2 linked regions of the Homo sapiens genome follow. The protein of the gene in region 1 purifies or fractionates together with the protein of each later gene. This does not show direct contact. Each region holds a gene or a part of one and is shown on either strand. Other genes may lie near its edges.

Evidence for each region.
Region 2: the proteins of SLC27A1 (region 1) and PBXIP1 purify together in Homo sapiens (co-immunoprecipitation; 3 studies listed by BioGRID and IntAct, with this or other methods). This does not show direct contact.

Annotation. Positions count from the first base shown.
Region 1 is NC_000019.10:17,494,318-17,501,610, forward strand, and holds part of SLC27A1 (long-chain fatty acid transport protein 1), read left to right. Parts: intron 1-2,937; coding exon 2,938-3,147; intron 3,148-5,960; coding exon 5,961-6,087; intron 6,088-6,177; coding exon 6,178-6,315; intron 6,316-6,394; coding exon 6,395-6,559; intron 6,560-6,955; coding exon 6,956-7,102; intron 7,103-7,293. UniProt on the Homo sapiens protein: Mediates the import of long-chain fatty acids (LCFA) into the cell by facilitating their transport at the plasma membrane.
Region 2 is NC_000001.11:154,943,472-154,946,284, forward strand, and holds the end of PBXIP1 (pre-B-cell leukemia transcription factor-interacting protein 1), read right to left. Parts: coding exon 2,101-2,813; intron 1,647-2,100; coding exon 1,553-1,646; 3' UTR 609-1,552; downstream 1-608. UniProt on the Homo sapiens protein: Regulator of pre-B-cell leukemia transcription factors (BPXs) function. Inhibits the binding of PBX1-HOX complex to DNA and blocks the transcriptional activity of E2A-PBX1.

The sequences.
Region 1 (7,293 bases):
TGGCCTTTTTCTTTTTCTTTTTCTTTTTGAGACGGAGTCTCACTCTGTTGCCCAGGCCAGAGTGCAGTGGTGCGATCTCAGTTCACTGCAACCTCCACCTCCTGGGTTCAGGTGATTCTCCTGCCTCAGGCTCCTGAATAGCTGGGATTACAGGTGTGTGCCACCACGCCTGGCTAATTTTGTATTTTTAGTAGAGATGGGGTTTCACCATGTTGGCCAGGCTGGTCTCGAACTCCTGACCTCAGGTGATCCACCCACCTTGGCCTCCGAAAGTGCTGAGATTACAGGCGTGAGCTACCGTGCCCGGCCACAGGTAGCCCTTTTTATCGGTGCAGCTGCTGGCATCCCCTGCTGCAAGCTTCCAGCTTCCTTATTTGTGTTTGCAGCCCAATCTTCCAGGCTGTTCTTTGTTAGAAAATAAGTGATTTCTTGGGCTGCTTTTTGTTAGAAGGGAAGTTCTACCGAGGATTTTTTGTTTCCAAAAAAAAAAAAAATAGGCAACGTAGAGTAGCTACTCACCTGCATAATAAGAGATTGGGTTGGGGGCTGCCAGAGATTTGCGCCCTATGCGGATGGCACATCTGGTCCTCACCGGTTTTTCACGGTCTATTTAGATCAGATACAGCCTCCCTGCTAGCTTGTCTGTAAAAATCCTTGCCTTTTTTTTTTTTCTGAGGCGGAGTCTCACTCTTGTCCCCAGGCTGGAGTACAATAGAGCGATCTTGGCTTACTGCAACCTCTGCCTCTCGGGTTCAAGAGATTCTCCTGCCTCAGCCTCCCAAGTAGCTGGGATTACAGGCACATGCCACCAGGTCTGGCAAAATTTTCTTGTATTTTTGTAGAGATGAGGTATTACTACATTGGCTAGGCTGGTCTCGAACTTCTGACCTGAAGTGATCTGCCCACCTCGGCCCCCCAAAGTGCTGGGATTACAGGCATGAGCCACCGCGCCCAGCCATGTGCCCATTTTTTTTTTTTTTTTGAGATGGAGTCTCGCTCTGTCGCCCAGGCTGGAGTGCAGTGGCGCGATCTCGGCCCACTGCAAGCTCCGCCTCCCGGGTTTACGCCATTCTCCTGCCTCAGCCTCCCGAGTAGCTGGGATTACAGGAGTGTGCCACCACGCCCGGCTAATTTTTTGTATTTTTTAGTAGAGACGGGGTTTCACCATGTTAGCCAGGATGGTCTCGATCTCCTGACCTCGTGATCCACCTGCTTTGGCCTCCCAAAGTGCTGGGATTACAGGCTTGAGCCACCCCGCCTGGCCGTGCCCATTCTTAAGCCAGTCATATTGGCTGAGGAGGGGCTGGGCTGATTGGCCAGGTTCTCTCCTAGAGATGGTGTGGGCTGTACCACACCTAAGGCAGTGGCCCAAGTCTGAGAATGGAGGGAGAGGACCCTCCCCCTTAGGGACCTGCTGTTGGTCAGCAGCCAGTGATCTTGGGTGCACTGCATTTCCTCTCTGGGCCTCAGTGCCTTCATCTCCAAGCTCAGCTCAGAGCATGGCGGTGGTGTCTGCTGATCATATTGGTTTAGTCATCAGCTATTTAGTCAGTACCTTCTCAGGGGCACAGCTGGGGGCACAGGGGATGCCTCTCAGTGACGTTTGAGCTGAGACTGAAGAGTTCAGGCAAATGCATCTGGGGGAAGACTGCTTCAGGCAAAAGGCTAGCATGTGCAAAGTCCCTGAGGAGGCAGAGTGTTCAGCGGAGATGGAGGGAGAGGAGGCAGCAGGGGCGGCAGGGCCAGATCCAGTTGGCCACAGGAAGAAATGTGGGTTTCATCCTGTGTGTGAGCGGGAAGCCCCGAGCACATTTGCAGCTGTTATGATCCATCTGGTGGGTAATCCCTGGCATGCAACTGTTTTATTCCCACTCTGGGGCCGGGATGCCTGGGTTCAAATCAAATTCTGCCACTTCCCAGCTCTGTGATCTCGTTCCAGTTCCTTACCATCTGTGAGCCTCGGTTTCTCCATCTGTAAAGTGGCGGGGGGGGAGTCATTCCGAAGCCCAACTGGAGATGAGAACTCTTAAAGGCACCGTGGGGCACCTGGTGGATGACCCCAGGAAGCTCTTGCGGGGCTTGAGAATGTGTGGCAGGGAGGGAAGATGTCCTGCAGGGGGAGCCCATGAGCAGGTGGCTCCGTGGGCACCTGGGGCTCAGTCCAGACGCAGCGCAGCCTAGTGGGTGCACCTGGGAGTGGTCTGCCCAGGGGTGACGCTCCGGCCAGCCCAGGCTCAGCCAGGGGGCTCTGGGTGACAGTGTAGGCTCCAGGCTGAGGGTTGCCCTGCGGGGTGCCAGCTCTCCTGCTAGTCCTGCCCTGTGTGCCTGCTGAGGCTCAGACAGGGATGTGGTATCTCCAGGAAGCTGCTTGGCAGAATCGAGGGACCACGAAGGGGTGCGGGTAGGGGGAGGAGGAAAGACACTGCATCTGCTTGGATAGAAGTTGCATCCGGCCAGGCACAAGTGGCTCACACCTGGAATCTCACACTTTGGGAGGCTGAGGCAGGAGGATTGCTTGAGGCCAGGAGTTCAAGACCAGCCTGGGCAACAGAGCGAGATCCCCCATCTCTACAAAAAAATCTGTAGTCCCAGCTACTCGGGAGGCTAAGGCTGGAAGATCACTTGAACCCAGGAGTTAGAGGCTGCAGTGAGCTGTGATCATGCCACTGCACTCCAGCCTGGGCGGCACAGGGAGACCCCCAACCAAAAAACAACAAAAAAAGCTGCATCCTAGACCCTTTGCAAGAGACTGAACGAGTCCTAGGAGTCAATGTGGTCCCTAATGGAGTGTGGACGATTCTGCAGCCATCATCATCCTTAGGCTGTTCCGCTCATAGGATTAGCTCCCTGGGTGGGGCGGTCTCGGGGTCTCTCCTCTGATCCGGGCTCCCCACCGCCTGCCGGTCCCATCACCCACTTCCTCACCCCGTCCCCCAGGTGGTTCAGTACATCGGGGAGATCTGCCGCTACCTGCTGAAGCAGCCGGTGCGCGAGGCGGAGAGGCGACACCGCGTGCGCCTGGCGGTGGGGAACGGGCTGCGTCCTGCCATCTGGGAGGAGTTCACGGAGCGCTTCGGCGTACGCCAAATCGGGGAGTTCTACGGCGCCACCGAGTGCAACTGCAGCATTGCCAACATGGACGGCAAGGTGCACACCGGCAGGGCCCCGGGGCAGGTCTCGGAGTTCAGGGAAGACCACTGTCTCCTCTTCCTGGGGCCCCTGGGATACATAAAACAGCCTGGACTGGCGCGGAAGGCTCCGCCAAGGCGCACGCAGGGCGGGGTGTAAGGGGAGTTCCTGGGACTCCCGGTGCACCACCAGAGGGACAATCCTGCAGCCTGCACAGATAGTCATGTGACTGTGGTCCTTGGGTCAGGAGAGTTGGAGGATAGGTATGGCTGTGCGCCCTGGCAAGTGCCTCAGCCTTTCTGAGCCTCAGTTTCTGCGTGTGGAGATTAGCAAGGAGAATAGGGCTCTGTGTACCGTGCTGTTATTTTGTTGTTGTTGTTTGAGACAGAGTCTCGCTCTGTCGCCCAGGCTGGAGTGCAGCCACGTGATCATAGCTCACTGTAGCTTTCAGTTCCTGAGCTCAAGCAATCCTCCTGCCTCAGCCTCCCAAGTAGCAGCAAACAGATACCTTCATAATTAGCAACTACTTACTCTCTTAATCATCTCCATTCTCCGCTTGCATGAATCTCCCTCTCCTTTCCCAAGCCCCTCCCATCCAAGGCCAAGAACAGACCGTAATAATGATCATAAAGCAAATGTCGGCTGGGCACAGTGGCTCACACCTGTAATCCTAACACTTTGGGAGGCTGAGGCAGGAGGATCACTTGAGCCCAGGAGTTTGAGACCAGCATAGCCAATGTAGTGAGACCCCCTTTTCTACAGAAAATAAAAAATTAGCCAGGCATGGTGGCAGGTGCCTGTAGTCAATGCTACTAAGGAGGCTGAGGCGGGAGGATCACGTGAGCTCACGAGATCGAGGCTGCAGTGAGCTATGATTACACCACTGGACTCCAGCCTGGGCAACAGAGTGAGACTCTGTGTCTCTAAAAAGGAAAAAAAAAAACAGCAAGTGCCATGGGGGCTGGGTCCTTAATGCCAAGAACAATGCTCCTTCCTCAGTGTGCTTGGTGTTGGATGGCCAGCCCCCAGGGCACTTTTGCTCACTGTAGCTCAGATTCTTGCATAGGAAACACACCAGGCCAGGCACGGTGGCTCACGCCTGTAGGGTCCAGCCCCACAGGGTCGGTGGGTTTTTCTCCCTGTGTGCGGAGACGAGAGATTGTAGAAATAAAGACACAAGACAAAGAGATGAAAGAAAAGACAGCTGGGCCCGGGGGACCACTACCACCAAGAGGCGGAGACCGGTAGAGGCCCCGAATGTCTGGCTGCACTGTTATTTACTGGATACAAAGCAAAAGGGGCAGGGTAAAGAGTGTGAGTCATCTCCAATGATAGGTAAGGTCACGTGGGTCATGCGTCCACTGGACAGGGGGCCCTTCCCTGCCTGGCAGCCGAGGCAGAGGCAGAGAGAGGGAGAGAGAGAGAAAGACAGCTTATGCCATTATTTCTGCATATCAGAGACTTTTAGTACTTTCACTAATTTTGCTACTGTTATCTAGAAGGCAGAGCCAGGTGTACAGGATGGAACATGAAGGCGGACTAGGAGCATGACCACTGAAGCACAGCATCACAGGGAGACGGTTAGGCCTCCGGATAACTGTGGGCAAGCCTGACTGATGTCAGGCCCTCCACAAGAGGTGGAGGAGTAGAGTCTTCTCTAAACTCCCCGGGGGAAAGGGAGACTCCCTTTCCCGGTCCACTAAGTAGCAGGTGTTTTTCCTTGACACTAAGGCTACCGCTAGACTAGACTTCCCAGACGCTGGCGTCACCGCTAGACCAAGGAACCCTCTGGTGGCCCTGTCCGGGCATAACAGAAGGCTCGCACTCTTGTCTTCTGGTCACTACTCACTGTGTCCCCTCAGCTCCTATCTCTCTATGGCCCGGTTTTTTCTAGGTTATGATTACAGAGCGAGGATTATTATAATACTGGAATAAAGAGTAATTGCTACAAACTGATGACTAATGATATTCATATATAATCATGTCTATGATCTAGATCTAGTATAACTCTTGTTGTTTTATATATTTTATTATACTGGAATGGCTCGTGCCCTCGGTCTCTTGCCTCGGCACCTGGGTAGCTTGCCACCCACACACGCCTGTAATCCCAGCACTTTGGGAGGCTGAGGTGGGTGGATCACTTGAGGTCACGAGTTCGAGACCAGTCTGGCCAACATGGCAAAACCCCATCTCTACTAAAAATACAAAAAAAAAAAAAATTGTTTGGGCTCAGTGGCATGCGCCTGTAATCCCAGACTCAGGAGGCTGAGGCATAAGAACCACTTGAACGTGGGAGGCAGAGGTTACAGTGAGCGAAGATTGCGCCACTGCATTCCAGCCTAGGCGACAGAGTAAGACTCTATAAAAAAAGGAAGGAAGGAAGGAAGGGAGGAACGGAGGAAGGGGGAAAAGCAGAAAGAAACACACCAGACAGGGTGTAGTGGCTCAAACATGTTGGAGAAGCATTTCTGTTCATAGAACCATGCCAAGCAGGGCGGCGGGCAGCAGGTGAAGCTCTGCAGTGTCTGACGTAGCTGTAGTGTCCACACAGAGGCATCTACTTCCTGCCAGCATGGAGGGTTTTGTGGATCAGGAAGTGGGTGCCAGCCAGAGGTCTTCTCTTGACTGAATGCAGGCTGGGAAGGTGGGAGGAGGGGCCCTGAGTTGGAGGCGACGCTTACTACCCTGCTTTTGCAGATCAGCCAAGGTCACAGAGCTTAGAATGACACTGGAGGTGCTAGGTCCAAGCCCCAGGGCAAGGCAGGCAAAGTGTTACTGAGAAGGACCCCGCATATCCCCGGCTCCTTCCAACTCAGTTCACCCCATTCCAGGTCGGCTCCTGTGGTTTCAACAGCCGCATCCTGCCCCACGTGTACCCCATCCGGCTGGTGAAGGTCAATGAGGACACAATGGAGCTGCTGCGGGATGCCCAGGGCCTCTGCATCCCCTGCCAGGCCGGTGAGCAGGGCCCCCGCATGGTCCCCACCCGGAGCAGGGGTCCCCACGCCCTGCCTGCCTAGCGCAGCCTGAACATGGCCTTCTCCCTAGGGGAGCCTGGCCTCCTTGTGGGTCAGATCAACCAACAGGACCCGCTGCGCCGCTTCGATGGCTATGTCAGCGAGAGCGCCACCAGCAAGAAGATCGCCCACAGCGTCTTCAGCAAGGGCGACAGCGCCTACCTCTCAGGTGCGCAGCCTGCTAGGCCCCGGTGACTGGCTGTGCGGATGGGGATCCTCCACCCATCTGCCCCTCTCCCCTCTGCCAGGTGACGTGCTAGTGATGGATGAGCTGGGCTACATGTACTTCCGGGACCGTAGCGGGGACACCTTCCGCTGGCGAGGGGAGAACGTCTCCACCACCGAGGTGGAGGGCGTGCTGAGCCGCCTGCTGGGCCAGACAGACGTGGCCGTCTATGGGGTGGCTGTTCCAGGCAAGCTGGGGTTGCAGGGGGTGGTCCTGAGGCATGGTCCTGAGGGAGCTCAGCCAAAAGGGGCTTAGAAGTACACATGCCTTTGGGCAGTGCACAACCTGGACAACTGCTCATGGCAGCCCAGGAGGAAGCACTGGATCTGGAGCCAGTTCACCTGGGTGATGTTGAGCCTCAGTTTTGTCATCCAGAAAATGGGATCATGAAAGCCCACCTGTCTTAGGGCTTCAATGAGCCAAGCAGGAGCTCCACAAAATGTGTGGCTGCTTCCATAAATGTCATCCCAGGTTGGGAGAGACTGGAGATTACAGACCAGGGGCTACTGCTTGACAGTGTATCTGGTCCTGCTGGTGGGGAGGATGAGAGGCGGGGTGTCCTCAGCTGAGCCTCTGCCTCCAGGAGTGGAGGGTAAGGCAGGGATGGCGGCCGTCGCAGACCCCCACAGCCTGCTGGACCCCAACGCGATATACCAGGAGCTGCAGAAGGTGCTGGCACCCTATGCCCGGCCCATCTTCCTGCGCCTCCTGCCCCAGGTGGACACCACAGGTGCGAGTCTCCCCCACTCCAATCTCTCTCTTCATCCATCAGTGTGTCTGTTGATTCATGTCTTGGTCCATTTTGTGTTGCTCTAAAAGAATACCTGGCCGGGGCCAGGCACGGTGGCTCACGCCTGTAATCCCAGCACTTTGGGAGGCCGAGGCGGGCGGATCACGAGGTGAGGAGATCGAGAGCATCCC
Region 2 (2,813 bases), on another chromosome or scaffold:
TCCCAGTGCCTCTCTGTTTCTGGTACACAGTAGACTTTATAAATGTTTGCTGAATTAGTGGTCCTTGTTCCATCCCCAGCCTGCCCTAACCCCTGCCCCACCCACACATGAATTCAATGAACTAATACCTTTAAGCCCTTAAACAGAGTTACATATTCGCTTGCTAAATAATACAGAAATCAGTTACAGCCCCTTCTAGAACCTGTAGTCCCCCGCCTCCTGCCTGAGCAGTCACACCACATTATTCTGTCTCCTGTACTTCCTGGGCATTTCCAGGGTCATCAAAAAGCCCAGTGTATTGCCGAAGGGACTAAGGTTAGATCTCAGGAAGGACTTCCTAGAGAATAGCCAAGGGGAGTCTGGTCATCCTGGGAGAGCTGGCCAGTGGAGCAGGCGCTGGGGTCAGTGGGGTAGGGTCTGAGATTTTGGGGACAGTGAGTAGTGGGAGAGGCGAGGTCTGGAGCAAAATGGAGCCAGGGTGCCACCTAGTGGTTCCCTCACCTCCCCAGCCCCAGAAGCTCTTCCTTCTGGGCCTGGGTTCTTTTCCCTCCTCCACACCCTTCCCTAAAGAAGGCAATAACTTTTGAGTGCCCAAAACAGGAGAGGCATTTTTCTTGCGTTGCTTTTATTTAATCACTTCCCCAGCCCTTCCATCGCCTTTTTTGAGGATAAGAAACCCAAAGTTCCCAGAGATTAACTTGCCCAAGATCACTTGGCCTGGATTTGAGCCTGAGGCTCAGACTCCAAAACCCACACTCAATTTGCTACATCTCCCAGGGGTGGGGCCAAGGCAGCTGTGAGCAAAAGGAGAAGTATCAGCTTCTCAAGGGCCTAGGGTTTGTTGGAAGGGCAAGGCAAGGGCAAAGGGGGATACAGAACAAGGGGGCAAGTACCAGTGCCTGGGATGGACCCATCCATTCAGGCAGGGGGTGTGGGGTGTCCCCTGTGCTTAGAAACCACCTAGCATCATAGCTGCAACAGCACTTTATTGGGATCTGAGTCTACAGTTCACATAGGGAGGTGAAGCCGTGGGAGAAGCAGGGGTAAAAAAAAAAAGGGGGGGGACTTCACCCCCTAGGGACAGCTGCTTCCAAACCTAACAAAACCCCAGGGTAAGTCCTCGTGCTGGGCCTCGAGCCAGCAACTCTAGTCAAATCCCAAGGCACCGGTCAGCATGTGGGTCAAGGGGCCCACTATGGGGACATACACTCAAGAGGATGAAAGCTCTTTAGCTTCAGAATCAGATTGCCTTCCCCAGACCCCACCCCAAAACAGGCTCCTCTCCCATCTCCCCCTTCACAGTGACAAAACACAAGCCCACATCCCAGGGCCTGGAGTATTTGCATGCATTTGCATAGACGGCAACGCAGGTCCAGCTAAGGCCTTTTTCTACATAAAGTGACATCAGTGCAGGGCTGGTGATTTTGCTCTACTGTGTGAAAGATATCTGAGGACACCAAACAAGCCAGGACAGAGTCCACCCTCCAGGAGTTAGATAACGCTGGGATCTTGGGCTGGGCCAGGCCAAGGCCATTCCCTGTGGGGCAGGGTGTCAGCCCCGGTGGTGGTGGTGGTGGCTATGGCTGTGCCCCTCCCTGGGCCCCGCAGCTCTTGGGCTCTGTGAGTGCTTGTCCTTCTTCCCTGACCTGTGGGGAGGAAGAGGCCTTTAGGGGACAATACCATGCAATGAAAACGGGTTCCCCAAGGAGAGAGGACCCTGCTCCTCCCAATGAAGCTGACTTGAGCAGGCACCACCAAGCATATGTGGGAAAAACCTGGTCTCCCAGGATAAAGGCTCCAGTCGGGGAGACAGGAAGATGGGGATCTCCCTCGTCCCCTGGGCCATGCAGGTAGAGGTAGGGCAGGGCAACTCAGGAGAAAGAATCCCCCTGCCCAAAAGGGGACTGCTCAGGACCACTCTGGGGTGGGCACAGGCAGCTTCCTACCCTCAAGGGAAGAAAGGAAGCGGACCTGAATGCCTTCTCTAAGGGAAGCCAGCTGGGGACCAAAAGTAAGGATACTCAAACTAATGATCCTTGCTCTTCACATCCTCCCGACTGCCTCTGTCCCACCCGACCCAACTCCCCCACAGCTGCCCACCTCTTCTTCAGTGCTTTGTCTCCAAAGAAGTGGCTGAAGATGAAGTCCTCAAAGTCATCTACTTCATCATCATCACCTGTCTGTTGCACAGCCACCTCCTCCAAGCTGTCCTCCAGGGCATCCACAAAATCCCGGAAGCGGAGGCGGTCATGACGGAAGATGCCATCCTCACCAAAGAAAGCAGGTGAGAGGGGTAGCTCCTTGGTCAGCTGCCCAGCCCAGGGCAGCCGTGCCAAGTATGTTCTTAGCAGAGAGGCCAGCTCCTGTTGCCGCACTGGGGCTAGCTCTGTGCCAAAGAAAGTCAGGCCCTCCTGCCGGGCACACTCGTCCACACCTGAGCAGCCCTGGGGTGCCCGGTACTTGGGCCTCAACAGCTCTGCCCAGGATGGCAGGGGGTCATGGCTGTCCTTAGTCCCTTCCCTCCACCGAGGTTGCTTCTGCTTTTCTCCAGAGGAGTGGAAGCTACCACTTTTCCTTGGGGGTTCCTTCGGGCCCTGTCGCTTGCCCTCCTTCTTGCTCCCCGACTCCTCCACCCTTGGCCTGCCCTCCTTCCACCTTCCTGCTGGCTCCCTGTCCTCCTGACCTCCCCAGTTCTTCTTCCTTTCCCGGCCAGATTCTTCCTTCTTATGTTTCCAGTGCTCAGCCTTCCGGTCTCTCTGCCCATCCCACCACTTTTCCTTTCCACTCCACTCCCTAGAATTCTGGAAGTGGGA